7 separate regions of the Homo sapiens genome follow, and all the other regions are linked to region 6. The links come from fine-mapping of genetic effects on gene expression. A gene starts in region 6. Each other region holds a variant in brackets. All regions are shown on one strand. Distances are between the middles of the regions.

Region 1 (4,068 bases), 600 kb after region 6:
GCAGGTTGAAATCCCATGCTGATCAGTAGTGGGACTGTGTCTGTGAACAGCCACTGCACTCTAGCCTGGACAACATAGTGAGACCCCATCTTTTAAAAAGTAAAAAGAGCCACAGTGGTAGCTCTCCAAGGGGATAACAGGCCCCACAGAGCCCTGGGAAAATGCACATGTGCACAGACACTCAGTCTGCCCCATTTCAGGGTTTTCCTGCACCCCCTGAGGACTGCAGTCCATGCCCCACAGCAAGTGGGCCTCCTCAAGCAGGACGATACCGGTATGGGACCTGTACTTCTGCCGCTGACTGGAGGGAGTGGCAAGAAGGGCAGGGCTGGGAAGCCTAACTGGGAATTGGCATATGGGTTTTTGGTAAATCCAGTGTGATCAGAGTAGTAAAACCAGAGCTCAAGTGAGGGTTAGGGCTGGAGGTCACTAACACCAACCCAAGAGGGAGAAGGTGGCGTGGAGATGGGAGAAGTTCCCCCGCAGAGGCGACAATGAACAGAGCTGATGGGATGTGGGGTGGGGCCGGGCAGTTTGCAGGATACGCAGGGATGGAGCAGCGCTGAGTGCCCAGGGAGGTTTGGTGCCTCCTGGGAAAGGTCACCTGCCTCAGGGTGAGGAAGGACCCTCATCACCAAGGCTCAAGGACAGGGTGAATGGAGACCGCTGGCAGGTGGCAGCGGCCGCAGGACGGAAGATCCTGAGGCAGACCCAGGCTTGGCCAAGCTTGCCCAACAGGTCTGACTGAGGCTCCACACAGAGACCCCATCCTTCTCTTATTTGGAATCCCAAAAGCTCTAAGAGCCAAGAGTTTATGTTAAACTGGAGTAGTTTTCAGTTGGAGGCAAGCCAGATTGATGTGAGGCTGTTTCTAGACTTTATTTATCTCACTTGCGGGTGTGTTTATACATTTCACTGCAGAAACATTAGCCTGTCTGGTTATGGGAGCTGCCCCAGAAGGATTCTGAATTCTGCACACGTCAAGCTCAAAGGGTTTGGCTAACAGATTGTGAACCTGCACTAGAGAAATTTGATTAAATTATTGTGTATCTATGAGACAATTAAAAAAAACAAACAAACCAGAAAGCTCTCCAAGACATAGTGATCAACTAAAAAAAACCCTTATTCATTTAACCAAAACTTGAAAGGTATCTCATGAGTCAGCACTGTTGACCGTAGATGCTAGGACTGGAAAAGTGAAACAAGCAGAAAAATACTAAACAAAACTCTCTACGTGCACTGTGTACCTCTGTGTGTGTACATGCAGAGAAAGAGGCCTGGATGGACACACATGAATCTGGTAATAGTGGGACCTCTGGGCAGAGGGGTCTTGCAGGGATGAAGGCAGCCTTTGACACATTATTCTCTGTATTTTGGTACTTTTTGTATTACTTTTGTTTACAGTAAGCAAGAATTCATGTATTACCCCTGTAATTAATAGAGAAAAACCTAGAACTATAAAAATGAAAACACGCTGGGTGTGGTGGCTCACACCTGTAATCCCAGGACTTTGGGAGGCCGAGGTGGGCGGATCACCGGAGGTCGGGAGTTCGAGACCAGCCTGACCAACATGGAGAAACCTTGTCTCTACTAAAAATACAAAATGAGCTGGGCCTAGTGGTGCATGCCTGTAATCCCAGCTACTAGGGAGGTTGAGGCAGGAGAATTGCTTGAACCCAGGAGGCGGAGGTTGCGGTGAGCAGAGGTCACGCCATTGCACTCCAGCCTGGGCAACAAGAGCGAAACTCCATCTCAAAAAAAAAAAAAAGAAAAGAAAAAGAAAACAAAAACAAGGAAAAATAAC[T/C]ACCCATTTAGTTCAACCTTATTTTATAGATGAGGAAACTGAAGGTCAGGGAGGCCCCACAGCCTCAGGTTGGAGCTGGAACCAGGCTCCACAGACTTTCAGGGCTAGTTCCTGAACCGATGCTGCCTCCAACATGACCTGTGTTTTGTGAACCGTGATGATCTATACACAAAATTCTACATGTGGCCTGTTTTGCTGAAGCCCTTTTTACCACTGAGGAATGGTTTTATTTATCTGTAGAAGCCACAGACAGCAGGGTGTGGAAAGTCAATGGGTCAATTGCTGCCTAGTGTTGGAGCAGGATGAAGACCAGAACCTGCTGGGGGGGACTGCAACTCTGGGTCACAGGTGACCTAGATGAGGGGGTCCAATGTGGCACACCAAGGCGGGGCCCAGCAGTGGGATGTGGACACTCCAGTGCAGCCACGTAAAACTTATCCTTGGATTTCTAGAGCATGCATTTGTGTGTGTGTGTGTGTGTGTGTGTGTGTGTATGCTTTTTTCCTGTTTTTGTACTTCTCTCATATTTTCTTTCTTTTTCTGCTGAAGGGGAAAAGGCACTGTCACCACAGCTGCTGATCAGGAGTTCCAAGTTTTGATTTTTCAGTCGCAGTTGATTTCACTCATTATTCATTATTTTTAACAGAATGTATACATTTCTACGTGGAAATGTTTTTCAACGTTTTAAAACCAGAATGAGTGAATGGGAAGTGGCATTTGAGCCAATGAAGGAGGTGGTATGAACAGCACGGCCCTGGCTAAGAGGACGGCCGGGACAGAGGCAGGGAGGATCACGTCCGGGGCCAATGTCGGGACCAGCCGCAGTGAGAGGGAGGAGAGAAAAGGCAGGGACTTCACCTGTCCCCAGCGTCCTGCTGAGCAGGGTCACAATATGAGTGCTTTCTGCCAGGACAGCCTTCCAGGGCAGCGGGTGTGGGGACAGCTGAGGCCAAGGCTGAGCAGGGCAGGGGAGTGGGGAGGGCAGGGCAAAGACGCACCCTGGAGATGTGTGGGCCCACCCAGCCGGCAGGCACATCTAGCTAGGCCCATTCCGATCCGTGGCCAGTGCTACCAGGCAGATTTCATCGTCAAGTCCTAATTTTGCAAGTTTTCACCTGGAAAATCAAGGGGCCCTGGCCTACCTGGGCCTAGAGGGTCTGGCATGGCCACAGTCACTGAAGTGGAGTGGGGTTCTGCCACTCCCTGCCCCTCACTCATCCACTCCACCTGTGAGGATTGGTGACGTTGCCTTCAACAAATAATTAGGGGGTGGCTTACAAAGGTCCCTTCGGACTTGGGAAAGAAGAACAGTTAAGCCAGCAGCTGGCCCTCCTCAGGATGTAGGGAAGTGTGGAAGCTGCACCAGCCCAGGGGACCCTGCCGGCTCCCCTACTCCCACCTTCCACAGGGGAAGGCCAGCAAGTACGATGGCCATGGGGATGGCGAGAAGGCTGAGAAGTGCCACTCAGAGCAGAAGGTGTGTCCATGCCAGCAGGACCAGCTGCTTGGGACACCAGCACCACCGGGAGAGAGGGTCCTGCCTGTCGCTGGTCTGTGGGTGGTTTCACCTGAGCTGTGCTGTTACCATCTATCCATGCATTTGTGTTAGTGAGGACGGAATGGTATACAGAGCAGCAGGCTGTCATGCCATATGGGAATTCTGTGTCTCCGGGCCCAGGCCTAGCCACACAGAGGGTGATCTGGCCTGGAGTGGTTTTTTTTGAGACAGGGTCTTGCTGTGTCGCCTACGCTGGAGTGCAGTGGCATGATCGTGACTCCCTGCAGCCTTGAACTCCCCGGCTCAGGCAATCCTCCCGCTTCGGCCTTCTGAGTAGCTGGGAATAGAGGTGGGTGCCACCACGCCCGGCTGATTTTTAAATGCTGTGTAGAGATGGGATTTCCCTCTATTGCCCTCACTGTTCTTGAACTGCTGAGCTCAAACCATCCTTCCGCCTCGGCTTCCCAAAGTGCTGGGATTACAGGCACGAACCATCACACCCAGCATTGCCTGGAATTTTTGGATCAAATTGGCCTGTGCCCCCTCCGGTGGGAATCCTAGGCATTCTGAGGGCAGGTTAGTCTTGCCCTCGAGTCTCCATGTGAGATGGTCTGACCAACAGAGATGCCTATTTCTGGGTTTCGGTTCTCAGTCCGCACTGGAATCTTCGGGGGGAATGGGTGGGGCATTCTGGCACAGTCCCTGGGGGGCTGAGGTTTCTCAGCTGAGAGGCCGACGCTCAGAGAGGCTGGGTGTCTGCTGAGGG
Region 2 (4,068 bases), 57 kb after region 6:
GGGAGGAATCTTTATGGCTGGCTGCATGCAGGGAGAGACAGGTCAGCTAGCCCTTTCTGAAGCTACAATTTCTCCAATGTTTTTCATTCAAAATAATCAATATACCGATTAAGCATATTTGGGGATAGCACGTCCTTGACTCCATTAACTACCATTATGGTTTTGGGGGAAGAACCCCAGAGAGGTGAAATATTTTTATCATACCAGAGGTATGTGATTATCAGCATGACTTATCACTGATAATGTTAACCTTCCTCACTTGTTTAGGGTAATGTTTCCCAGGCTTTTCCACCATAAAGTTTGTTTTTTCCCATATTCTATACTTTGTTTGTTGGAAGCAAGTCACTAAGTCCAGCCCATCCTCAAGTGGGAGGAGAGGATTAAGCTTCACCTTCTGGTGGGTGGGTTTGGGGGTGGGAAAAGTGTTCACAGATATTAGTTGGAATTCTTCTGTAAGGAAAATTTGTTTCTTCTCCCACACTGATTTATTTAATCATCTGTTTTCATCAGTATGGACTCGCTTATATTTATTTCATACTTTGGGTTATAATCCGATGTGAAGGTCTTCAAAAAGTTCATGGAAAGTATGTATTAATATTATGAAAAAAACTATACACGGATTTCAAGCATTTTTTCACATCAAAATAAACTCATACTAACATGTTATAACATGTCTGAACAGAATCTAGTTTGAGGCACTAGGAAGGATAAGACGTCAGTTTGAAAAGAGCCCCTTTCAGAAAAACATAAATTCTGCTAAATTTGAAACAGGGACAAACATTAAATTAGTGGAACAGAAACATCAAATTGAAGCTTGGGTGGAAGAATGGTGAAATCATTGATGCTTTTTGAAACGTTTATGAGGACAATGCCCCAAAGAAATTAGCAGTTTACAAATGGATACATTGTTTTAAGAAGGGAGGAGATGAGATGATGTTTAAAATGAAGCTTGCAGTGGCAGACTATCTGCATCAATTTGCAAGAAAAAAATTCATCTTGGTTTGGCCTTAATAGAAGAGGACTGGCAATTAACAGCAAAAGCAATAGCCAGCACCATAGATATCTCAGCTGTTTCAGCTTACACAATTCTGACTGAAAAAGTTAAGAAAACTTTCTACTCGATGAGTGCCAAAACCATTGCACCCTGATCAGCTGCAGACAAGAGCAGAGATTTCCATGGAAATTTTAGACAAGTGGGATGAAGATCCTGAAGCATTTCTTCGAAGACATGTAACCGGAGATGGAACGTGGCTTCACCAGTACAATCCTGAAGACAAAGCACAATCAAAGCAATGGCCACCAAGCGGCGGAAGGGGTCTAGTCACAGCAAAAGCAGACCAGTCAAGAGCAAAGATCATGGCAACTGGTTTTTGGAGATACTCAAGGCATTTTGCTTGTTGACTTTCTGGAGGGCCAATGAACAATAATGTGCTTATTATGAGAGTGTTTTCAGAAAGTTGGCCAAAGCTTTAGCAGAAAGCTAAAAAAAAAAAAAAAAAAAAAAGCTTTAGCTCAGGAAAGCTTAACCATAGAGTCCTTCTCCACCACGACAATGCTCCTGCTCATTCCTCTCATCAAACAAGGGCAATTTTGCAAGTTTCGCTCTTGTGCAATGGCGCACTCTTGGCTCACCACAACCTCCGACTCCCAGGTTCAAGTAATTCTTCTGCCTCAGCCTCCTGAGTAGCTGGGATTACAGACATGTGCCACCATGCTCGGCTAATTTTGTATTTTTGGTAGAGTCAGGGTTTCTCCATGTTAGTCAGGCTAGTCTTGAACTCCCGACCTCAGGTCATCCATCCACCTCAGCCTCCCAAAGTGCTGGGATCACAGGCATGAGCCACTGCACCTGGCCTTGCAAATGTTTCTATTGGAAATCATTAGGCATTCACCTTACAGTTCTCATTTGGCTCCTTCTATTTTTTTTGTTTTCTAATCTTACAAAAATCTTTAAAGGGCACCCATTTTTTCTTCCATTAATAACGTAAAAAATGCTACGTTATCACAGTTGAATTCCCAGGACCCTCAGTTCTTTAAGAATGGACTAAATGGCTGGCATCATCACTTA[T/C]AAAAGTGTCTTGAACTTGATGGAGCGTCTGTTAAGAAATAAAGTTTGTATTTTTAATTTTTACCTTTCTTACTTTTTTTTTTTTTGAGACGGAGTTTTGCTCTTGTTGTCCAGGCTGGAGTGCAATGGTGCAATCTTGGCTCACTGCAACCTCTGCCTCCTAGGTTTAAGCCACTCTCCTGCCTCAGCCTCTCAAGTAGCTGGGATTACAGGCACGTGCCACCACGCCTGGCTAATTCTGTATTTTTAGTACAGAGGGGGTTTCTCCATGTTGATCAGGCTGGTCTCGAGCTCTTGACCTCAGGTATTCCGCCCACCTCTGCCTCCCAAAGTGCTGGGATTACAGGCGTGAGCCACTGTGCCCAGCCCTAATTTTTATCTTTCAATTGCGTTTTTTCCAAGAACTTTTTAAAGCCCCTCATACTACTCTGTTTATTGCTTGAATTGTTCCAGTTTTGACCATTGGTAGCTTTTTTACATTGGCTGCTGTATCTCTTTGACATGTACCCATCCTCTGTTCTGGTTTCTGTTTCTTCATTGTTGGTTTTTTTCTTTTTTTTCTTTGAGACAGAGTCTCACTCTGTCTCCCAGGCTGGAGTGCAGTGGTGCAATCTTGGCTCACTGCAACCTCCGCCTCCCAGGTTCAAGTGATTCTCCTGCCTCAGCCTCTCAAGTAACTGGGATTACAGGCACCCATCACCACGCCCAGCTAATTTTTGTATTTTTAGTAGAGATGGGGTTTCGCCATGTTGGCCACGCTGGTCTTGAACTCCTGACCTCAGGTGATCTGCTCGCCTCGGCCTCCCAGAGTGCTGGGATTACAGGCATGAGCCACTGCACCTGGCCTGTTGGTTTTTTTAGTGCTTTCTTACTTTCTTACACTACGAGATGCCCCAGGCTCATCTTACGCTTTCCCTGCCTCAGGCCTAGAATCAGCCTTTTATTCAAGGAGCCCAAACCAGTAATTTTTGACCAGCAACACAATAAACATGAAGTTCAGAGCAGCTAAAAGATGACCTGTTTGAAAATAGGCTCAGCATACAAAAATTAGCTAGGCATGGTGGCGGGCACCTGTAACTCCAGCTACTTGGAAGGCTGAGGCACAAGAACTGCTGGAACCTGGGAGATGGAGGTTGCAGTGAGCTGAGATTGTGCCACTGCACTCCAGTCTGGCTAATTAGTAAAAAAAAATTTTTTTAAGATGGAGTCTTACTATGTTGCCCAGGCTGGTCTCACACTCTTGGGCTCAAGCAGTCCTTCAACCTGGGCCTCCCAAAGTGCTGGGATTACAGACATGAGATACTGTACCCAGCCTCATTTTTTTTTGCATATGGATATCCAGTTGTTTTAGCACAATTTGTTGAAAAGATTGCTTTCTCCACTGAATTACCTTTGCACCTTTCTCAAAATTGATTGTTTGCTTCAATAGCAGTTAGCACACCTAGTACCCAGATCTTGGTTTTTAAAACCATTCTTCAGTAAAACAATCTAGAACTCCTTGAAGTGGCTGATTTTAGGACTGAGGCAGGAAATACACAAGATGAGCCTGGAACATCTTGTAGCACCAGAAAGTAAGGAAGTACTGAAGAAGGAAAACCGTATTTGATGGGGTTACATGACAGGAGCCGACTGAAAGAGCTCCCAATGGTCAAAGCTGGAACAACTGGAGCAGCAGAATAAAGAGAGTAGTATTGGATTATAACCCAGAGTATACAGTAAATATCCATGAGTTCATACTCATGGATATTTTGGTAAAAATTTCTTATGCAGTTGGAAAGAATGTGTATTCTGTTGTGTTGGGGTGGAGTATTCTATAAATGTCAGGTTAAGTTGGTTGATAATGCTGTTCAAGTATACTATATCCTACTCATTATCTGGAAGACAATGAAATCTCTGGAAGATTGGGAGAGGGAGATTGAAATCTTGTTATAATTATAAATGTGTCTATTCCTCTGTGCTGTTCTATTAGATTTTTCTTCATATATTTTGAAGCTCTGTTA
Region 3 (4,068 bases), 130 kb before region 6:
TCTCACCATGAGACATACCTGCTCCCCATTCACCTCTGCCATGGTTGGAAGCTTCCTGAGGTCCTCACTAGAAGCAGATGCTGGTGCCATGCTTCTTGTTCAGCCTGCAGAATTATGAGCCAAATAAACCTCTTTTCTTTATAAATGACTCAGCCTCAGGTATTCCCTTACAGCAATGCAAAATGAACTAAGACAGCTATTCTGAATCTTTTGTCCCTCCATATAAACTTTACAATCAGTTTGTTGATGTTCATAGAACAAATTGCTGGGATTTTGATTGGGATTGCATTGAATCTACCAATTAAGTCAGGAAGAATTGACATCTTGATGACATTGAGTTTTCCTATTCGCAAACATGAAATGTTTCTCCATTTATGTAGTTCTTCTTTGACACCCGTCATCACAGTTTTCTATATAAAGATTTTGTAGATATTTTGTTATATTTACGCCTATTTGTTCAATTTCTGGGAGTGCTAATGTAAATGTAAATGGTAATGTATGTTTCATTTCAAATTCCACTTTTTCATTGTTAGTATATAGGAAAGCAACTGAGTTTTGTATGTTAACCTTGTGTTCTGCAAACTCACTATAATTGCTTGTTAGTTCCAAGAGGTTTTTTTCTAGATTCTTTGAGATTTTCTACATAGACAAATCATGTCTTCAGTGAACAAAGACAATTTTATTTCTTCCTTCCCAATCCACATACTTTTTCTTTTTTTGAGACAGAGTCTCACTCTGTCACCCAGGCTGGGGCACAGTGGTGCAATCTCGGCTCATTGCAACCTCTGCTTCCTGGGTTCAAGTGATTCTTCGGCCTCAGCCTCCCAAGTAGCTAGGACTACAGGTGCTCACCACCATGCCTGGCTGATTTGTATATTTTTAGTAGAGACGAGATTTCACCGCACTGGCCAGGCTGGTCTCGAACTCCTGGCCATAAGTACTCCACCTGCCTTGGCCTCCCAAAGTGCTCAGATTACAGGCGTGATCTACCATGCCCAGCCCTGTATCTTTCTTTTCTTCTGTTTTCTTTTTTTGTCACATTAGCTAGGACTTCCAGTACAATGCTGAAAAGGAGTAGTGAGGAGACATCCTTGCCTTATCCCTGATCTTAGTAGGAATGCTTCAAGTTTTTCACCATTAGGTATGATGTTAGTGGCAGGTTTTTTGTAGATGTTCTTTCGGAAGTTGAGGAAGTTCCCCTCTATTCCTAGTTTGCTGGAAGGCTTTTTTTTTTTTAAATCATGAATGGGTGTTAAATGCTTTTTTGGCCTCTATTGAAGGGATCATGTGATTTCTCTTCTTTAGCCTACTGATGTGGTGAATTGCATTAATGGATTTAATTGATTTTCAAATGTAGAATTGACCTTGCATACCTGGGAGAAATCCTACTTGGTCACGATGTGTAATTCTTTTTGAACATTGTTGGATTTGATTTGCTAATATTTTGTTGAGGATTTTTGCATCTGTGTTCATAAAAGATATTGGTCTGTAGTTTTCTCTTATAATTTGTCTTGCTTTGGTATTAGTGTAATGTTGGTCTCATAGAGCTAGTTAGCAAGTAGTCCCTCTGCTTCTATTCTCTGAAAGATTGTTGAGAATTTATATCATTTCTTCCTTAAATATTTGTTGGAATTCACTCGCCAACCCATCTGGGCCTGGGGCTTTCTGTTTTGGAAGGTTACTAATAATTATTGATTCTATTTCTTTATTGAATATAGGTCTACTTAAATTACTTATTCATAAAAC[T/C]TTTTTTTCCCTTTTTTTTTTTGAGACAGAGTCTTGCTCTGTCACCCAGCCTGGAGTGCAGTGGCATGATCTCAGCCCACTGCAACTTCCACCTCCTGGGTTCAAGTGATTCTCCTGCCTCAGCCTCCAGAGTAGCTGGGATTACAGGTGCATGCCACCACACCTGGCTAATTTTTGTATTTTTAGTAGAGATGGGGTTTCGCCATGTTGGCCAGGCTGGTCTCAAACTCCCAGCCTCAAGTGATCCACCCGCCTCGGCCTTCCAAAGAGCTGGCTGGGAATACAGGTGTGAGCCACCGTGCCCAGCCATCATACACCTTTTATAACAAAAATTTAAATTTTAAAAAGCATTTGTTCTACCCAAATTGATCTATAAGCTTAATAATTACAAACAAAATTCCAATGGGATTTTAAAAAGTAACAGATAAGATGATTCATAACTTCATTTCAAATAGGAAAAGCAGCCGGGCGCGGTGGCTTGTGCCTGTAATCCCAGCACTTTAGGAGGCTGAGGTGGGCAGATCACTTAAGGTCAGCAGTTTGAGACCAGCCTGGCCAATATGACGAAACCCCATCTCTACTAAAAATACAAAAATTAGCTGGGCATGGTGGCGTACACCTGTAATCCCAGCTACTCAGGAAGCTGAGGCAGGAGAATCACTTGAACCCGGGAGGCAGAGGTTGCAGTGAGCTGAGGTTGTGCGACTGCACTCCAGCCTGAGTGACACAGCAAGACACCGTCTGAAAAAAAAAAGAAAAAAACAAAGAATGTTACTACTGCTGTATGTAGTTGCCACTGCTGCTGCCATCTTCACTAAATTGGAGTTCACCTGGGCCCTGCTTCTTCCTGTCACCAGCTTCTGGTAGAACCTAGGTCCCACGTCTGAGCACTAGGTGTACCAGAGCCTGGGAAAGTGAGCATCTGCCATTTCTGCTTCTTTACACAGAAGTAGATTGTATCTCTGAAGGTGGGAGTTCTGTACACTCCTAGTGTTCTGAGATTCAGAAACTAGGATGTCACAAGGAATGACATAATGTCCACAATAGTGGTATATATTAAAATAAAAAAAGACATATTACTCTTTATCCTCAAAATTCCACTGCAAGGAACTTGTCCTACAAACATTTTTTTTCCTTTTTTAACCATAAAATGCAGAGAAAAAAACCGTATTTTAATGACCATGCAAGAGGATTCATCATATCATAGTCTAACATCAAAAAAATTAAAATCAATAAGAGACTGGCTAAGTTTGGTTTTTAAAAATTTTTATTAAAATTTCTTTTTAGTTTCATAGGTTTTTGGGTAACAGGTGGTATTTGGTCACACAAGTAAGTTCTTTAGTGGTGATTTGTGAGGTTTTGGTGTACCTACCACCCAAGCAGTATACACTGAACCTAATTTGTAGTCTTTCATCCCTCGCCCCCTTCTCACCCCTTCCCTGAGTCGCCAAAGTCATTCTTATGCCTTTGCATCCTCATAGTTTAGCTCCCACTTATGAGGGAGAACATACGATGTTTGGTTTTCCATTCCTGAGTAATTATGTTTTTTTAACATTAGAATAACATGCAGCTGATAAAACGATTATTGAATGAATACTTACAATGTACCAGGCACCATGTTGTGCACTGGGAATACCATTGCAAGCAAAATGAATAATGGTCTGAATGAGGTATGAATTTTTTAAATGTCTATTACATATTTTTTAATTTTAAAATATATATACTAATTATATATAAATATATATAAATTTTAGTTTTTATTTTAATGCCTATAATATATTAAGTAATTTTAAAAAGTTAGCATGACCCCATTGGGAAAGAATTATACATTTAAATATGTTTGTGCACACACAAGGAAAATTTCTGGAGCAATACACAAAAACTGTAGTTATCTAGAGTAGAAATAGATAGGGGCAGGTTCTTACATAAGAATTTCTTACCTGTATTTACAGTTTATGATTATTATTATTTTTGAGATAGAGTCTTGCTCTGTTGCCCAGGCTGGAGTGCAGTGGCACGATTTCGGCTCACTGCAACCTCCACCTCCCAGATTCAAGTAATTGTCATGCCTCAGCCTCCAGAGTAGGTGGGACTACAGGCGCGTGCCACCACTCCCAGCTAACTTTTGTATTTTTAGTAGGGACAGGGTTTTGCCATGTTGGCCAGGCTGGTCTTGAACTCCTGACCTCAGGTGATCCGCCTGCCTCAGCCTCCCAAAGTGTTGGGATTATAGGCGTGAGCCACCACGCCTGGCCTATTTACAATTTAAAAATAATGTTTATAATTTTTTTTTCCAGATGGAGTCTCGCTCTGTCACCCAGG
Region 4 (4,068 bases), 92 kb before region 6:
AAGGCCGGAGCCCACTCCCTCAGCTTGCAGGGAGGTGTGGAGGGAGAGGCGCGAGCAGGAACCGGGGCTGCGTGCGGTGCTTGCGGGCCAGCTGGAGTTCCGGGTAGGCGTGGGCTTGGCGTGCCCCGCACTTGGAGCAGCCGGCCGGCCCTGCCGGCCCCGGGCAATGAGGGACTTAGCACCCGGGCCAGCGGCTGCGGAGGGTGTACTGGGTCCCCCAGCAGTGCCAGCCCACCGGCGCTGCGCTCGATTTCTCGCCGGGCCTTAGCTGCCTTCCCGCGGGGCAGGCCTCGGGACTGCAGCCTGCCATGCCTGAGCCTTCCCCCGCCTCCGTGGGCTCCTGTGCAGCCCGAGCCTCCCCGACGAGCACTGCCCCCTGCTCCACAGCGCCCAGTCCCATCGATCACCGAAGGGCTGAGGAGTGCGAGCGCATGGCGTGGGACTGGCAGGCAGCTCCACCTGCAGCCCCAGTGCGGGATCCACTGGGTGAAGCCAGCTGGGCTCTTGAGTCTGGTGGGGACATGGAGAACCTTTATGTCTAGCTCAGGGATTGTAAATACACTAGTCGGCACTCTGTATCTAGCTACTCTGGTGGGGCCTTGGAGCACCCTGTGTCTAGCTCAGGGATTGTAAATACACCAATCGGCACTCTGTATCTAGCTCAAGGTTTGTAAACACACCAGTCACCACCCTGTGTCTAGCTCAGGGTTTATGAGTGCACCAATCGACACTCTGTATCTAGCTGCTCTGGTGGGGTCTTGGAGAACATTTATGTCTAGCTAAAGGATTGTAAATACACCAATTGGCACTCTGTATCTAGCTCAAGGTTTGTAAACACACCAATCAGCACCCTGTGTTTAGCTCAGGGTTTGTGAGTGCACCAATCGACACTCTGTATCTAGCTGCTCTGGTGGGGCCTTGGAGAACCTTTGTGTGGATACTCTGTATCTAACTAATCTGATGGAAACGTGGAGAACCTTTGTGTCTAGCTCGGGGATTGTAAATGCACCAATCAGCGCCCTGTCAAAACAGACCACTGGGCTCTACCAATCAGCAGGACGTGGGTGGGGCCAGATAAGAGAATAAAAGCAGGCTGCCCCAGCCAGCAGTGGCAACCCGCTCGGGTCCCCTTACACATTGTGGAAGCTTTGTTCTTTCACTCTTTGCTTTAAATCTTGCTGCTGCTCACTCACTCTTTGGGTCCACACTGCTTTTATGAGCTGTAACACTCACTGCAAAAGTCTGCAGCTTCACTCTTGAAGCCAGTGAGACCAGGAGCCCACCAGGGAGAAAGAGCAACTCCAGATGCGCTGCCTTAAGAGCTGTAACACTCACCGCAATGGTCTGCAGCTTCACTCCTGAGCCAGCGAGACCCCGAACCCACCAGAAGGAAGAAACTCCGAACACATCCAAATATCAGAAGGAACAAACTCCAGACGCGCCACCTTAAGAGCTGTAACATTCACCGCGAGGGTCCGCGGCTTCATTCTTGAAGTCAGTGAGACCAAGAACGCACCA[A/G]TTCTGGACACACCATCAGCAGTGTTGAGGTATGATTTACCTACCACAACCTCACCAATACTTGTCACTTTTTCTGTGAAAGGTCAGATAGTAAATATTTTAGAATTTGCAGACCACTGTGGTCTCTGTAGCAGCTACTCAATTCTGCCATGATAGTGTAAAAGCAGGCATAGACCATACATTATAAATAAATGGGAGGGCTGTATTGCAATAAAACTTTATTATACAGAAACAGGTGGTTCTGTAATTTACCAACGTCTTACCTAATTATAGCTATTCTAGTGGTAGCTCATTATGGCTTTAATTTGCATTTCTCTAATGACTAATGATGTCAAGCATCTACTCGTGTGCTCGTTAACAGTTTATATATCTTCCTCGGTGAAATGTTCAAATATTTTACCCATATTTTAATTGAATTGTTTGTGTACTTATTGCGTTATGAGAGGCCTTTATATATTCTAGATACAAGTCCTTGATCAGGTATATGATTTGCAAATATTTTTTCTAGTCTGTGATTTTTCTTTTTATTTTCTAAGTGATGTCTTCTTAAGAGCAAACATTTTTTAAATGTTTCTGCAGTTTAATTTATCAGATTTTTCTTTATGCATTAGGCTTTTGAAGGACTCTGTCTAATCTGTCATGGGTGAGCAGTAACTATCTGGGGCTGGTGGTTTGGTGGTAAAAAGAGTTTACCAAGACAGTTGCAGGTAAAGAAAGGCAGATGTATCAGAGAAAGTAGGAAGATACATTGCAAGGAAGCAACAGGCAAGTTTGCAAGAGAGAAGCTAACTACAAGGAGACAAAGACTTGCTGGGGATTTTACAGGGTGATGCTTGTGCTGTGTGCTGAAGGGGTCTTTGTGCAGTATTGATAACACCGAGGTTCCAGTGAGCTAACCTGCAGTTTTCTGTCAGCCGAGGGTCTGTTGATAGGTGCAGGAAGACTGTGAGTTATTTGCCCAAGAGGGCTACGTGTCCTGCACCATGAAGAAAGGCAAACTTACAGCTTATCTGCCTTCTCTTTTTGCTTTCCCTTAGTCCCACCAGCCTGACTCCTTTTCCCTAATTAAGACTCTACATTTTCTTGCTGACAGAGCAATAGTGACAAATCTTTGTCATGTGGGTGAAGGTCTCATCTTCCAACTGCTTCCTGCTGACCAGGGGCATAGAGGTGGCCCTACCTAGGATTACTGGCCTGTTAGGAGGTTATATGGGCCTAAACCCCGGAGTTGGGACTTGAATTGGGCGGGGTGACTGTGGGACTATGGGGGAACAGCATTTATTTAGCAGCCTAAAATTTTGTCCTGCTGTGTTTAAAGGAGAGTTAATGGAGTACCCTTAATGGCTGATACCATTGCTGCAGTAACATTTTGGTTTGAAATTGTTGTATTCTAGAAGACACAAAATGAGACATTGCATTAACAATGAATGGTACAAATGAACTGCTATGAGCATTATTACAGGTGGGAGAAGTGGGGTCTGACAGATAAAGATTTCTAAATATTAATGGGATAAGGGAAAATTGAGAAAAAGATGTAGATGTATTAGTGAGGATGAGGAGTTGTCTAGTCTTGACCCCTATTCCTATATATTCCATCCCCATTGCTGAATTGTTTATAGGCATAAAGTCATCATCATCAATCTTGCAGGCATTAACTTTGTTGTTTCCCCGCAATAGAGAAAGCCTGTGGGCGTCCACAGTGAGCTGATCAGAGTCGTCATATGGCACCTGTTCCTGGTGTACCTGATTATAGTTGAGGGCAGAATTGCAATGCACTTGTGTTAAAGCCCCTAGGAAAGGGCCGAACCCCTTGGAGTTTCTAATGCAGAGGTTTGCCTTACAGGCCATCTCTGGTGCCTTCCCGATCCACTTTGTCATGGTGGATGATTGCCATGAGGCATCCATTGGCCTAGGTCCCCCTCTTAAACCTGCGTTTTTGGTGTGTGTGTAAGTGGTGTAGTCGAATCCAGACTATTGGGCTTGTATGTTAACAATTTCTTCTATAGATAGTGCAACAGCTAGGAAGGAGTGTAATGTCATCCTCAAGTGCCTGCTTGTGTGGGCATATTCAGCAGTCAGTATTGTGTGTTACGTTAGCAACTTGAGATATTACTGGGTAGAGTGGGTGCTTGGGTGCAGCCATTTGAGGCAGTAGCTAGCTATGATAGAGTAAAAACAGAATCATATTTAAGGAAAATGACAATATATGGTAAACTTAGGAAGGCAGGAAAGAAGATGGGCTGTAAAGAGTATGAGAAAAACAGTTAAATACTAGTACTTCAGCACATTGAAGTTGTGGTGTGGGGGTAAATAACATCACTAGGACAAATATAAAGAAGTTTCATCTGGGTGATAGTTTTGGAGGTTCCTCTGCAAATAGCAATCGTGTACTATCTCCCTTATAAAAGCATTAATATCAAGAGGGTGAAGCTGCTTAACAGGCAGTTGGAGAATTACTGAGATCCTGTGGTAGAACTGAATGCAAAGAGTTCGCTTTAAGAAGAAGATTTAGCCCAGCACGGTGGCTCATGCCTGTAATTCCAGCACTTT
Region 5 (4,068 bases), 66 kb before region 6:
TCATATCATTGCCACTTCTAGCCACAAATTAGGAGTCAGGATTAAGGAAAACTTACCTAAGTTTTCCCAGGCTATTTTAAAATTGCTTTTTTTCTACAAAAATAAGTGTTAAATTCTTCTTTTGAGGTAGTCTCAATTAAGTTGATGCTAATTGGAAAAGACTATTAGATCTTAAGCTGAACTGACAATTTTATAAAATAAATAGACTTCCTTTTCTACTATTAGAATGTTCTAATAATGAGTTCTATTATTATAGTAATACTTCTGAATTCCCTTTTAAAATATTGTTACTATCTTGGCATTTTTCAGACTTAACCTGAAAATGTTTTAAATATCAAAATAGACATATCCGAAGTTTACAACAAGGGTGTACAATCATGATGGGCACACTTCCTCAAACATGGGGGACCAACCCAACTCAGACCCATCACACCCTCAGCGTGTGGAAATGTTAAACTATACAGGAACCATGGCTGGAGACAAAAATCTGTAGGTGTCCCTGACATAAAATGCCATAGTACTTGCCTGCAGCCTGGACACACCCTCCAATATCCTTCAAATCATCTCTAGATTACCCACAATACCTAATACAATGGAAATGCAACGTAAATGGTTGTTATACTTTATTGCATAAAGAATGACAAGAAAAAAAGCTTGTACATATTCAGTACAGATGCAACCATCCTTTTTTTTCTGGAATATTTTTGATCTGAGGTTGGTAGAAAGCAAGGATGCAGGACCCACAGATAAAGAGGGCTGACTGTATTTAACACACACACACATTTTCTTTTGCCTGAGTAAAAAACAAAATTGTACTTGTAACACAGCTAAAGGATGTCAACAAAACTGTTCTTCCCAACCTCAAATTGATAGAGACGACCTTCAAAGTCCACATAGAACCTCTTATTGCCTTTTGTATTTTTAGTAGAGACAGGGTTTCACCATGTTGGCCAGGCTGGTCTCAAACTCCTGACCTTGTGATCCGTCTGCCTCAGCCTCCCAAAGTGCTGAGATTACAGGCGTGAGCCACCGCACCCGGCCATCTCTATTTCTTATACACAATAATATTATAACAAGAAAGATGTAAATTTGCTTAATATGCAGCTTCTGTTTCTGAGTTCTGTAGCTGTCACTCAATAAGATAAGAAAGCTACTGATCTCACCAAATCAAGGACACAATACTGTTCCCTCAGGTAGCACAAATTGCATGGGCTCAAAATATGGGAAAGACAATATTTTATGAAATGGTGTATTTTAAGGCTGACCTACAGATAGGAATTTTTTTTCCAATCCAAGCAATAAAGCTTTGATGTGGAGGTTCACTCCACATCCTGTCCTGATCCTCAGCTGCCAGAGGCCAGCCTGTACTTGCCTTCACACTGCGTCTTCCTTCATGGCTTCAGGCTAAGATTGCTGGGAGCCTCCTATAAATGTGGTCATCTTATGGATTAAACACTTTTTTTGTTAGTTTTTTTTGTGTTTTAGAGACAGGGCCCACTGTCATCCAGCCTGGAGTGCAGTGGTATGATCATAGCTTTCTACAACCTCTAACTCCTAAGCTCAAGTGATCCTCCCAACTCAGCCTCCTGCGCAGCTAATTTTTAAATTTTTTTTTGTAGAAACGGGGTCTTGCTATTGTTGCCTAGGCTGGTGTCAAACTCCTGGTTTATAGTAACCCTCATACCTTGGCCTCTAAAAGTGCTGGGATTACAGGAGTGAGCCATCATGCCCAGCTTAGATTAAATACTTTTTTTTTTTTTTTCAGATGGAGTCTTGCTCTGTTGCCAGGCTGGAGTGCAGTGGCGCAATCTTAGCTCACTGTAGCCCCCACCTCCCAGGTTCAAGTGATTCTCCTGCCTCAGCCTCCCGAGTAGCTGGGACTACAGGCACGTGCCACCATGCTCAGCTAATTTTCGTGTTTTTAGTAGAGATGGGGTTTCACCATGTTGGCCAGGATGGTCTTGATCTCTTGACCTCATGATCCACCCACCCCAGCCTCCCAAAGTGCTGGGATGACAGGCGTGAGCCACCATGCATGGCCCAGATTAAATACTTCTTTAGGAGATGGACTAGAAATGGGTCATCAGAAATTGTTTTTACTTACATATGAAGAATTCCAATCTTCAAAAGAATTTTAGAACTCAATCAGAACTTGAGAACTTCTTTCAGTAGGTGCTGTGATTCAATAACCAGAATTCTGCTTTACTTTATAGTTACACAAGTATTTCTGTCATTTTCCTACTAAATTACATGAAGGGGGTTGTCTGCTTATGAGCTGCACCACCGAGCAGCATGCCTATCAGCGAGAAGGTGCCTGACAATTCTCAGTTGAAATGTCCTGACCAAGTTCCCCCAGAAATTTGTGAGTATTCAACTGTATTAAAACTAAATATATTGTTTTTAATGACA[A/T]ATAGTCACTATTTAGTAAAATGATTACTGTGCTATAATAGAACAAGTCCTTAGCCCAAAATTAAATGGCCACAGATTGACATATGCATAAAGCTTATCAACTATCACATAACACATTTTAACAAAAATCAAGAGGACTAATAGATGATCTCTTCTTTTTCTTTTGTGAGACAGGGTCTTGCTCTGTCACCCAGGCTGGAGTACAGTGGCACAATCATGGTTCACTGCAGCCTCCACCTCCTGGGTCCAAATGATCCTCCAACCTCAGCCTCCCAGGTAGCTGAGGCCACAGTAGCATGCCACCATTCCCGCTTAGTGTGTGTGTGTGTGTGTGTGTGTGTGTGTGTGTGTAGAGTCTGGTCTCAAACTTCTGGGCTCAAGCAATTCTCCCTCTTTGGCCTCCCAAAATGCTAGGATTACAGGCATGAGCTAAATCGTACCAAAGAAATTATATTTTAAAAGTAAAGTCAAAGGTAGAATTTAAGAACAAAGGAATTCTATTTCTATACTTACTAGTCCCAGGTAGACAAACAACACAGCCTTCCTCAGCCTCTACCCGAGTCATTTCAGACGAGTGTGAGCCATGAGAAATCAGAGCTGTTATTTTCGGGTTGAAACTGACACTTTAGGCTACTGTTTTCATTTGCCTGTTGAAAGAATAACTTAGCTGTATTAATCATTTAAATTAAAATTAAACATTTTGAAGGGAAAACATGGGGAGTAGACAACATCTACCTTACTCAAGGAGGCAGGTAATCAATGTAAAAGGAATGAGAAAAATCACCATTGGAACCACGGGTGTAATCAATGTTTCCAAGAGGCTTCGGCAATGATGCTGAAACCAGCTCGTGAAGGTTGCCAGGGACTAAGATGTTCACAGTGCTTTGATGTCTCATCCCACAGATGACTAATAACAAAAGGGAAAAGCTACCCTCACAAGGAGATGTCCAGTTGACACTATCTCAACCAAAATTATTAAACATAGCATCAGCAATCGTGGGACAAACAGACGCAAACATCTCCTGGTGTGAGGCGGTAAGTACACAACACTGCCTAATCTGAATTAGGCATTATTCCCTGTTTAATCTGGATCCACTCATGAGAACACTGTTTAATCTGTATTCTTGCCAAAATGCTCAATCTATTCTAGTCAGGAGAAGAAAAAAGCAACCAGATATATCTAGATTATGGGTCACTCTACAAAACAAAGAGCCTAGATTTTTCAAAATGTTTCATGTATTGAAAGAACTACTCCAAAGTAAAAGAATAGAGAGACGTGACAACCAAAGGCAAGGTTAATCTTTGATTAAACTGTGGATCTAAAACAAAAATAAAGAACATTTTGGAGACAATTAGGTAAATCTGAATATGGGCTGTACATCAAATTACTGTATTATAGTTAGATGGTAGAACTGTAATTACATAGAAATATGTCATTATTCACAAGAGATAAACGCTGAAGTGTTGGGGTAAAACATCATGCTCTTTTCAACTTACTTTCAAATGATTCAGAGAAGAAAGTACTTATGGAAAGAGAAAGAAACTGCAAAAGGTGGCAAATGCTAGCCACTGGTTGATCTGAATGAAGAATATGTAGATGTCCATTGTTTTGCCTTTTAATTTTCTGTAGGCAAGGGAAAGATAGGAAGGAGGGAAGGT
Region 6 (4,068 bases):
AAACTGATTCTTTTTTCCTCGCTGGCTAAAACAAAATACATCTTCGCACATCAACGTACTTCTATATCTATTGTCACCTTTGATGGTCACATATTATTGCATCCTATGGATGCAACTGAAATTTACTTATAAGATCCATTCTATGGGTTCTTTTTAAAATAAGTGCTGTGAAAAACAAAGTGCATGTATCTCTATTTCCCAAGGGTATTTTAGTATAATGGAATTGAAGGGTAACGGGCATACGCATTTTTAAAATATAGTACTTACCACCAAATTATCTATTTAAAAAGTAATCAGCAACTTAAACTTCAGGCAGCAGTATAAAAAACATCCTCACACATTGTGGATAGAAAACAGTTTCATTCCTCTTTTAATTTAAATTCTTATACCAGAAAAGCAAAGGCTTTTTTTCCTATTTACATAAGAAACTTGTAGATCTGCAAAAAAGTACTTTGCCCCCTTTTACAGTTTTTGATTATTTGATTTGAAAGAATTCCCTGTAAAATGAAGATGCACTTTTCAGGCCGGGCGCGGTGGCTCACACCTGTAATCCCAGCACTTCTGGATGGCGGCTCACTGCAAGCTCCCCCTCCCGGGTTCACAGCATTCTCCTGCCTCAGCCTCCGGAGTAGCTGGGACTATGGGCGCCCACCACCACGCCCGGCTATTTTTTTTTTTTTTTTTTTTTTTTGTATTTTTAGTACAGACAGGGTTTCACCGTGTTTGCCAGGATGGTCTCAATCTCAATCTCCTGACCTCGTGATCCGCCCACCTCGGCCTCCCAAAGTGCTGGGATTACAGGCCTGAGCCACCGCGCCCAGCCCTAAAATTTTTACAAATGTCATTACAATAGTAAAAGACAGTAGGTGTCATGCAAAAATGTTAAAACCTTGATTTTTTCATTCGGCTTATGTAAAATTGATAATCACAGAAAGAGCTCACATTTTGAGAAAAATGTGTCTTCCCATTCAGGAACACAGAACCCACCTCCCACTTCCAAGTTTCCTTCTAAGAACCTTCAGTAAAGAACCGATCTACACAGGTGGATACGGATGTAAAACGGACAGTTTTAGGTGAGAGCTTTTCGCTACTGAAAATGACTCACGGTTTTTTGTTTGTTTGTTTGTTTTTCTTTTTTGGAGACGGAGTCTCGCTCTGTCGCCCAGGCTGGAGTGCAGTGGCGCCATCTCGGCTCACTGCAAGCTGCGCCTCCCGGGTTCACGCCATTCTCCTGCCTCAGCCTCCCGAGTAGCTGGGACTACAGGCGCCCGCCACCACGCCCGGCTAATTTTTTTTTTTTTTTTTGTATTTTTAGTAGAGACGGGGTTTCACCGTGTTAGCCAGGATGGTCTCGATCTCTTGACCTGGTGATCCGCCCGCCTCGGCCTCCCAAAGTGCTGGGATTACAGGCCTGAGCCACCGCGCCCGGCCGACTCACGGTATTTTTTGATAGAGGAATGAGTTCTCTCATTAGGCACCTCCTATAATGTATATAACACCATGTTTTAAACGTGTAGGTTAAAAATAACACTGTGTATGCTTAGCTTGGTGAGTTAAATCACTCACATTCTCCACCAAGCGCTCCAGCTGGGGAATTATGGGGGATGCAGAGCAGCTGAGGCTCCGTTTGGCACCACCCCTCTGAGGGTGCCCTCTGAGGCCCCATCCCAGGGGCTGCGGGGAAGCCGGGCCTGGGGACCCCCTCCCACCCTGGGCTGAGCCCCCACCCCACTGCCTGTGCTGCCTGTCCCCGGCTTCCAGGTCTCTGCTCCTGCGCGCCAGGCAGCGCTCCACTTCCGCGGCTTCGCCCTTGACAGCGCCCTGTGGATCTTCCGATTCGGTACCCCGAACCCCTGTAGACGTGGCCTAGGGAGCCCCGGACCGCCGGCCCCTGCGGCTCCCAAAGCCGAAGAACTTCTTCAAGGTGGTGAGTTCTTCTCAGACCCCCAACCACTGGCTCCTGAGCCGCGGCAGCTCCGTGTCACCTTTTCACTCCCCCTCGCCCCACACCCAGCCCCAAATCCCCAATCCAACTCCAAATCCCCTATCCAACCCCCAATCCGCGATCCAAACCCCAATCCGTGATCCAACCCCCAATCCGTGATCCAACTCAAAATCCCCGATCCAAATCCCAATCCGCGATACCAAGTCTGCGATCTAGCCCAGAATCCGCGATCCCGCCTGGTCCACCCTTCAGCAGCGACACTGGCGGCCTCCGACCTCTCAGACCTAGTGAGCCTCGCAAAGCCGCCCGGCTCCCGGAAGCCGCAGGTGCAGGCGCCGCTGGGCTCGCGGGTTCTCCTGGGCTGGCCAGGGCTGCCCCAGGACCACGGACGGAAAATCGCAGGCGCGCGGCCCACCCCGCCTTAAGGGGAGGGCCCGCCTGGCCGTGTAGCCCGCCCCGCTCCTCCTTCCGAAGAGAGATCTGGTGCTGGCATGGGCACCCCGCGGCCACCGGAGTGGCTTCCCGGATGAGCCTGGCTTCGGCGCTGACGCTCTGGCCCTGGGGGCTGCCTGGCTGGTGTCAGGTAGCGGAAGACGCCTGGAGAGTCACTCGCTCCTTCCCCCACCCGCCCCCACCGCTGCTCGTGCCAGGACGCGCAGTTTGCAGTTGCAGCTCTGGCACTGGCGCGGGATGGCGGAGCTTCCCTTGGATGGCGTCAGGGTCACTGAGTGCACAGCCTACCTGGTCTGAGGGTCTGCTCCTCCTGGACACCTCTCCGGATCCTGATCCCTGGCGCTGGGCAATCCACAGGATGAGACTCATCGGCTGCTGGCGAAGCCGACCGCCTGACTTTGCTGCCTGGGCGGCTGGCCCCGGGATCCGCGCTGCTGGGGACGCGGGCCTGGTCTGCGGTGTCCAGCCACTTGCTGCGGGCGCGCCACGTCTAGGCTGGTGGCTGCAGCCGCAGCTCCGCGCCTGCGGGGGCTAGTGGGCCTGGTACCTGATGTCCTCAGGGTCAAGTGCATCGCTCCCCCACCTGAGGGTCTGCTCTGCCTTGACCTCCTCCAAGAGCGCAGGGGCCACCGGGGAGGCAATTTAGGAATGCCTAAATGGAAGGAACTATCCTTTCTCTGTCTTTAAGAAATAAGTGGCTTTTGTTGTTGTTTTTGTGATACCCAGCTACAGCAGAAAGCAAAGGGGATGCAGAGGTGAAGGTCCACAGCCAGTTCCTCTACTGATTCCCTCCAGGCATAAATGTTCAATCTAACGGCTTTGGTTGGCACTTTCACCTCAGCACTTACCTATGCCTACAGGTTTGTTCAATGGCAACTCTTGGATTTTGAATTAATACCCAATTATTTCATATTTTAATACCCAAACTATTTTAATAGTTTACCATATCTGCAATCCTGAATTAATTTTTTCTTTGTTTATAAAACAATCACTATAGTAAGATAAAAATCACAAAACACTTCCACATTTCATTGGGCTAAAAAAGCATTAAAACATTATACGTAAAAGATAAAAAATATATTGTTTCATCATAAAAATTATGGCTTTGCAAATTTTTTTTACCTTTAGCTACATTCTTACGATTCTTTAACTTTTCACTGTTATTTTATACATTTTTAAAACAATGCATACCAGTGTTTAAAAAACAAATGCAGCATTTCATCTAGGACTGAACATATAACGCTGGTCAGCTCTTTCAGCATGGTGCAGGTGTGGGCCTCAGGCTGCTTTCTGTTTACATGTATCAAATGACATGACCATCTTAACTGCACAGATACCATCTTCTCGGCTTCTTTCTTCTCCCCCAAAACTATTTAATGTTGCTTTAATGGCAACATCAATTTAACTAGTTTTGTAATTTCTGTATTTAATTGTCACATAACATTATATCCGTTCTTTTTTTTTTTAAAAAAAAAGGAAAGCATACAATCTTAGTTGCTAGGCCAGTTCTTCTGAATCAATTTGAAATCACCTTTTTTCTCTTTCATAATAACTACTTATTTTAATCAACAAGTCAACTATTATTAGATATTAACTTATTTTTTCTAGTTAAAATTTTGCTATCTTTCAAATAATTCCAACTCTTACACACACATTTAATGTACATAACT
Region 7 (4,068 bases), 140 kb after region 6:
CTCTCATGAGGTTGCAATAAAGCTTCCAGCTGAAGCAGACGTCTCCAGGCTTGTTCAGTGGCTGATGTCTGGAAGCCTGAGGTTCTTTCTCCGTTGCCCGATCTAGTCTACCTGAGCATTGTCACAACGTGGCAGATGCCTTCACCAAAAGCAAAGGATCTTTGTGTGTTTGTGTGTGGTCTGTTTGTTTATTTGTTTTCTGGTCGAGGCCCTGGGGTTTGCTGAGCCTTCCCTATTATAGATGAAAAGACCAAGGCCTAATGAGGGGAAACGTCTTGCCTGAGGACACCCAGCCATTCTCTGCTTAGATGCATATGCATTATGAAACCCAAAGGTCCTCTGGCACTGTGCGCTCCAGAACAGAGCCCTCCGCAAACACTGTATTTGAGCTTCACATTTGAAATATGGATTTGAGCATTGTAATAAACAGAACAAAAACCCTTGGATATATTGCATACTAAATGTTAGCATCTGGAGATGGCCAGCACAGTTTCTTCTGCCATTAACTCAGTTGTCAGTAAGTTTGACACTGAAGTTTGTCCTGCTATCTCTGTACAAGTAAAGAGGACCCTAAAAATTGCAAGCAAAGCAAGGTTCTAAATACTGCTAGGATTTTCAACTGCTATTACTTGTTGACCTGGGATTTTCTTAATATATTTGCAACTTTAAAAAGTTTAAAAGTTTTGAAGCTTAAAGTCAGTGCTGAGGTTGAGACATGACTAAATCTGTCATCCATGATATCTAATTTCTTTGTTTGTTTGTTTGTTTTTTCAGACAGAGTCTCGTTCTGTCACCCAGCCTGGTGTGCAGTGGTTCAAGCCATTCTCCTGCCTCAGCCTCCCGAGTAGCTGGGATTACAGGCGCCCACCACCACGCCCAGCTAATTTTTGTATGTTTGGTAGAGACGGGGTTTCACCATGTTGGCCAGGCTGGTCTCAAACTCCTGACCTCAAGCGACCCACCCGCCTCGGCCTCCCAGAGTTTTGCGATTACAGGCGTGAGCCACCACGCCCAGCGGAATTTCTTATTCTTTTTGATCTATCAAAACAACCTCATTGTTCTCAATGACTGACCTTATAATAAGTAAATGTTATAGAACATACAGTGTCATTTTCCTTTTCCAGTAGAGGAAGATTACATTTCCCAGAGTTTCTTGCCTTTGAATAGAGGCCTGTGACTGGATGCTGAGGGCCCCTGGGATGTGGGCAGACATGGAGTTTGTGGCTTCTTCCCCTTACACAGAGGCCAGAGCTGTATCATGGCAGAACCACAGATGGTGGGAGGGTGGGTCTCTGGACCACTGGTTGAGGGGTAGAGAAGATCTGCTAAGAAGAGTTCCCTGACCTGCACCGAACAGTGACAGGAGCAAGAAGCAAACCTTTGTGTGTTAAGCCACTGAGATATTGGGGTTTATTTATTACAGCAGATTCTGGTCTATCCTGACTAATACTGGATCAAACAAATAACATTTTTTGCAAATCAAAACCACAATGAGATACCATCTCACGCCAGTTAGGAAGGAGGTTATTAAAAAGTCAGGAAACAACAGATGCTGGCGAGGCTTTGGAGAAATAGGAACACTTTTACGCTATTGGTGGGAGTGTAAATTAGTTCAACCATTGTGGAAGACAGTATGGTGATTCCTCAAGGATCTAGAACCAGAAATACCATTTGACCCAGCAATCCCATTACTGGGTATATACCCAAAGGATGATAAAGCATTCTACTATAAAGACACATGCACAGGTATGTTTACTGCAGCACTATTTACAATAGCAAAGACTTGGAACCAACCCAAATGCCCATCAATGATAGATTGGATAAAGAAAATGTGGCACATACACACCATGGAATACTATGCAGCC[A/G]TAAAAAATGAGTTCATGTCCTTTGCAGGGACATGGATAGAGCTGGAAACCATCATCCTCAGCAAACTTAACACAGGAACAGAAAACCAAACACCGCATGTTCTCACTCATAAGTGGGAGTTGAGCAATGAGGACACATGGACACAGGGAGGGGAACATCACACACCGGGGCCTGTTGGGGGGTGAGGGGCCAGGGGAGGGACAGCATTAGGACAAATACCTAATGCATGTGGGGCTTAAAACCTAGATGATGGGTTGATAGGTGCAGCAAACCACCATGACACATGTATACCTATGTAACAAACCTGCATGTTCTGCACATGTATCCCAGAGCGTAAAGTAAAATAAAAATTAAACACAAGTAACATTTCTAATAAAATACAGCTCTTATCTGTTCTGTGTTTTGGGTTCCATGTATTGTTTATTGAAAAGTAAAAAAGTTTTCTGCTACAAAAGGTATCAAAATCAGCAATTGAGTTTGAAGTCAGAATCTTACAGGTAGGGAACTCAAGGGCTGGAGAGGAGAAATAATTTGTCCAGGGTCACATAGCTGAGGCAGGGCTAAAATCTCGCAGAGGGACATCTATAGTTTTATCCTGTCCTTTCTTTTGGTAACAGCAGCTGAATTTCCTCATCTTCCTGCTCAGGCCACATGCTTCATATGGGACTCATTCTCATCCCTCAGCTCCAGGCCTGGTGAATCTATATCGTCTATCACCCAAGCCTCAGTGATTAGCTTGAGGATGGATGCATGACCCAGTCCAGACCAATCACAGCGAATCCCTGGGTTTTTGCTGGAGCTGCTCTCCGTGGATAGTTGAATCAATAGGATATAAGTCTGGAGCTCCTGGGTGCTATCTCAGTATCTCTAGGTTGAGAATGCAGCTAACACAGAGGAAAGCAGAGCTGAAATGTGGAGAGAGCCAGACGATGCTTGATGGTGTTTGAGCACCTGGATCCAGCCATGCCTGAAGTTGGAGCTTTTAGTTACATGAACCAATAAGTTCCCTTTTGGTTTATGTCAGTTTTGACTGGTATTCTGACCTACACATACGGTTTTGTGCTTTTTTTCACCAAGGGACAGGAATTACTGTATTTTTCTGTTTTACTGATAAGGAAATGGAGGCTCAGTCCATTTGTAATCAGATGCTTCAAGTCTCACCAGATTCAAGGCTTGATGACCTCTCTTTTGTGTTGGGAATGCCCCACACAGGAACTCTTGTTTGCTTCTGCCCCCTGCTTCCGTGCAGACACACTCTATCCTGTTTCACAAGGGGGTGGTAAACCACTACAGAGTAGGTGCTAAAACATCGCTGAAATGAAATAAGGAAAGAATACCCCTTTAAAGAAACGGTGTAAAGTGTATAATGAGGCGATTCATCAAAAAATGCAAATGACTTAGCCCTAAAAGATACCAACTTCACTAATAATTAAGAAATACAAATAAAACAGCTATCATCTTTCACTCATGAGTTTGTCAAAGAGCTAAAGGTTTCCTGACAGCTGAGGGCAGGGAAATAGTCTCTTTCCTGGGCTGAGGCAGTAGGAGGGGAAGGGGCACAGCCTCTTTGGAGGGCACTGTGGCAATGTCTGTGAAATGTAAACAGTGTACAAGCCATTTGCCCTCCAGTTGAGAATGTATTCTACAAAGAAACTCCAACAAATACGCAGAGATGCAAGTAAAAGACTGTCCAGTAGAGAATTATTTTTAATAGCCAAAACCAAAACTGAAAGAAAACAAAACAAAACTGGAAACAAATGTCCACCAAAATGGGTCTACACGAACCCCAGTACATCCAAGACATGGAAAACATTTTAGCTGCAAAAAAGAATGAGGTAGCCCCAGATGTGTGGGGGTGGAAAGGTGCCCAGGGTATACCATGTCGTTAGGGGAGAACCGGATGTGTGATATGATGCTATTTATGCTGAAAATGAAATCTTACCAGAGTTAAGATGAAGATAAGTTGTGAAGTAGAATTAGGGGGTCAGGGGACTTCGTTTTCAATGAATTAATCTTTACAATTTGATTTTTTAAAATTATGAAAATAAGCACCTTACTATTTGTTTACTCATTTGAATACCCAATAATGCACAAAAATTCAGAAGGTACAAGGTGGAGATGTATAATTCTGCAGTTCTCTCAACTATCTGATACAGAATTAATTTATTCCCGGCATGCATTTAGTGTATTTAGAAGAAGGAG

What was found. PIP is the estimated chance that this variant, and not a neighbour inherited with it, causes the effect.
Region 1: its variant is fine-mapped to the expression of FAM153A in lymphoblastoid cells (GTEx, PIP 0.97).
Region 2: its variant is fine-mapped to the expression of FAM153A in whole blood (TOPMed, PIP above 0.99).
Region 3: its variant is fine-mapped to the expression of FAM153A in whole blood (TOPMed, PIP above 0.99).
Region 4: its variant is fine-mapped to the expression of FAM153A in whole blood (TOPMed, PIP 0.97).
Region 5: its variant is fine-mapped to the expression of FAM153A in whole blood (TOPMed, PIP above 0.99).
Region 7: its variant is fine-mapped to the expression of FAM153A in whole blood (TOPMed, PIP above 0.99).

Annotation. Positions count from the first base shown.
Region 1 is chr5:178,378,128-178,382,195 of GRCh38, forward strand. All of the region lies in intron 2 of COL23A1 (collagen type XXIII alpha 1 chain), which reads right to left. It also overlaps the pseudogene RN7SL646P. Among named protein-coding and RNA genes, the nearest start is that of PHYKPL, 150 kb to the left of the region's middle. RefSeq lists an enhancer at 2,310-3,116. The variant T/C (reference allele first, on the strand shown) is at 1,805.
Region 2 is chr5:177,837,979-177,842,046 of GRCh38, forward strand. No RefSeq gene overlaps it. Among named protein-coding and RNA genes, the nearest start is that of FAM153A, 57 kb to the left of the region's middle. The variant T/C (reference allele first, on the strand shown) is at 2,069.
Region 3 is chr5:177,648,785-177,652,852 of GRCh38, forward strand. It overlaps the pseudogene SIMC1P1. Among named protein-coding and RNA genes, the nearest start is that of B4GALT7, 51 kb to the left of the region's middle. The variant T/C (reference allele first, on the strand shown) is at 1,747.
Region 4 is chr5:177,688,194-177,692,261 of GRCh38, forward strand. All of the region lies in intron 1 of LOC107986489 (a long non-coding RNA gene), which reads left to right. Among named protein-coding and RNA genes, the nearest start is that of B4GALT7, 90 kb to the left of the region's middle. The variant A/G (reference allele first, on the strand shown) is at 1,519.
Region 5 is chr5:177,714,241-177,718,308 of GRCh38, forward strand. It overlaps LOC107986489 (a long non-coding RNA gene), which reads left to right. Exons shown (of 5, transcript XR_001743020.2): 3 at 2,214-2,362; 4 at 3,313-3,444. It also overlaps a transcript of FAM153A not described here. Among named protein-coding and RNA genes, the nearest start is that of FAM153A, 67 kb to the right of the region's middle. The variant A/T (reference allele first, on the strand shown) is at 2,410.
Region 6 is chr5:177,780,598-177,784,665 of GRCh38, forward strand. FAM153A (family with sequence similarity 153 member A) reads right to left here and starts at 2,302. Exons shown (of 23, transcript NM_001413826.1): 1 at 2,146-2,302.
Region 7 is chr5:177,920,288-177,924,355 of GRCh38, forward strand. No RefSeq gene overlaps it. Among named protein-coding and RNA genes, the nearest start is that of PROP1, 74 kb to the right of the region's middle. The variant A/G (reference allele first, on the strand shown) is at 1,866.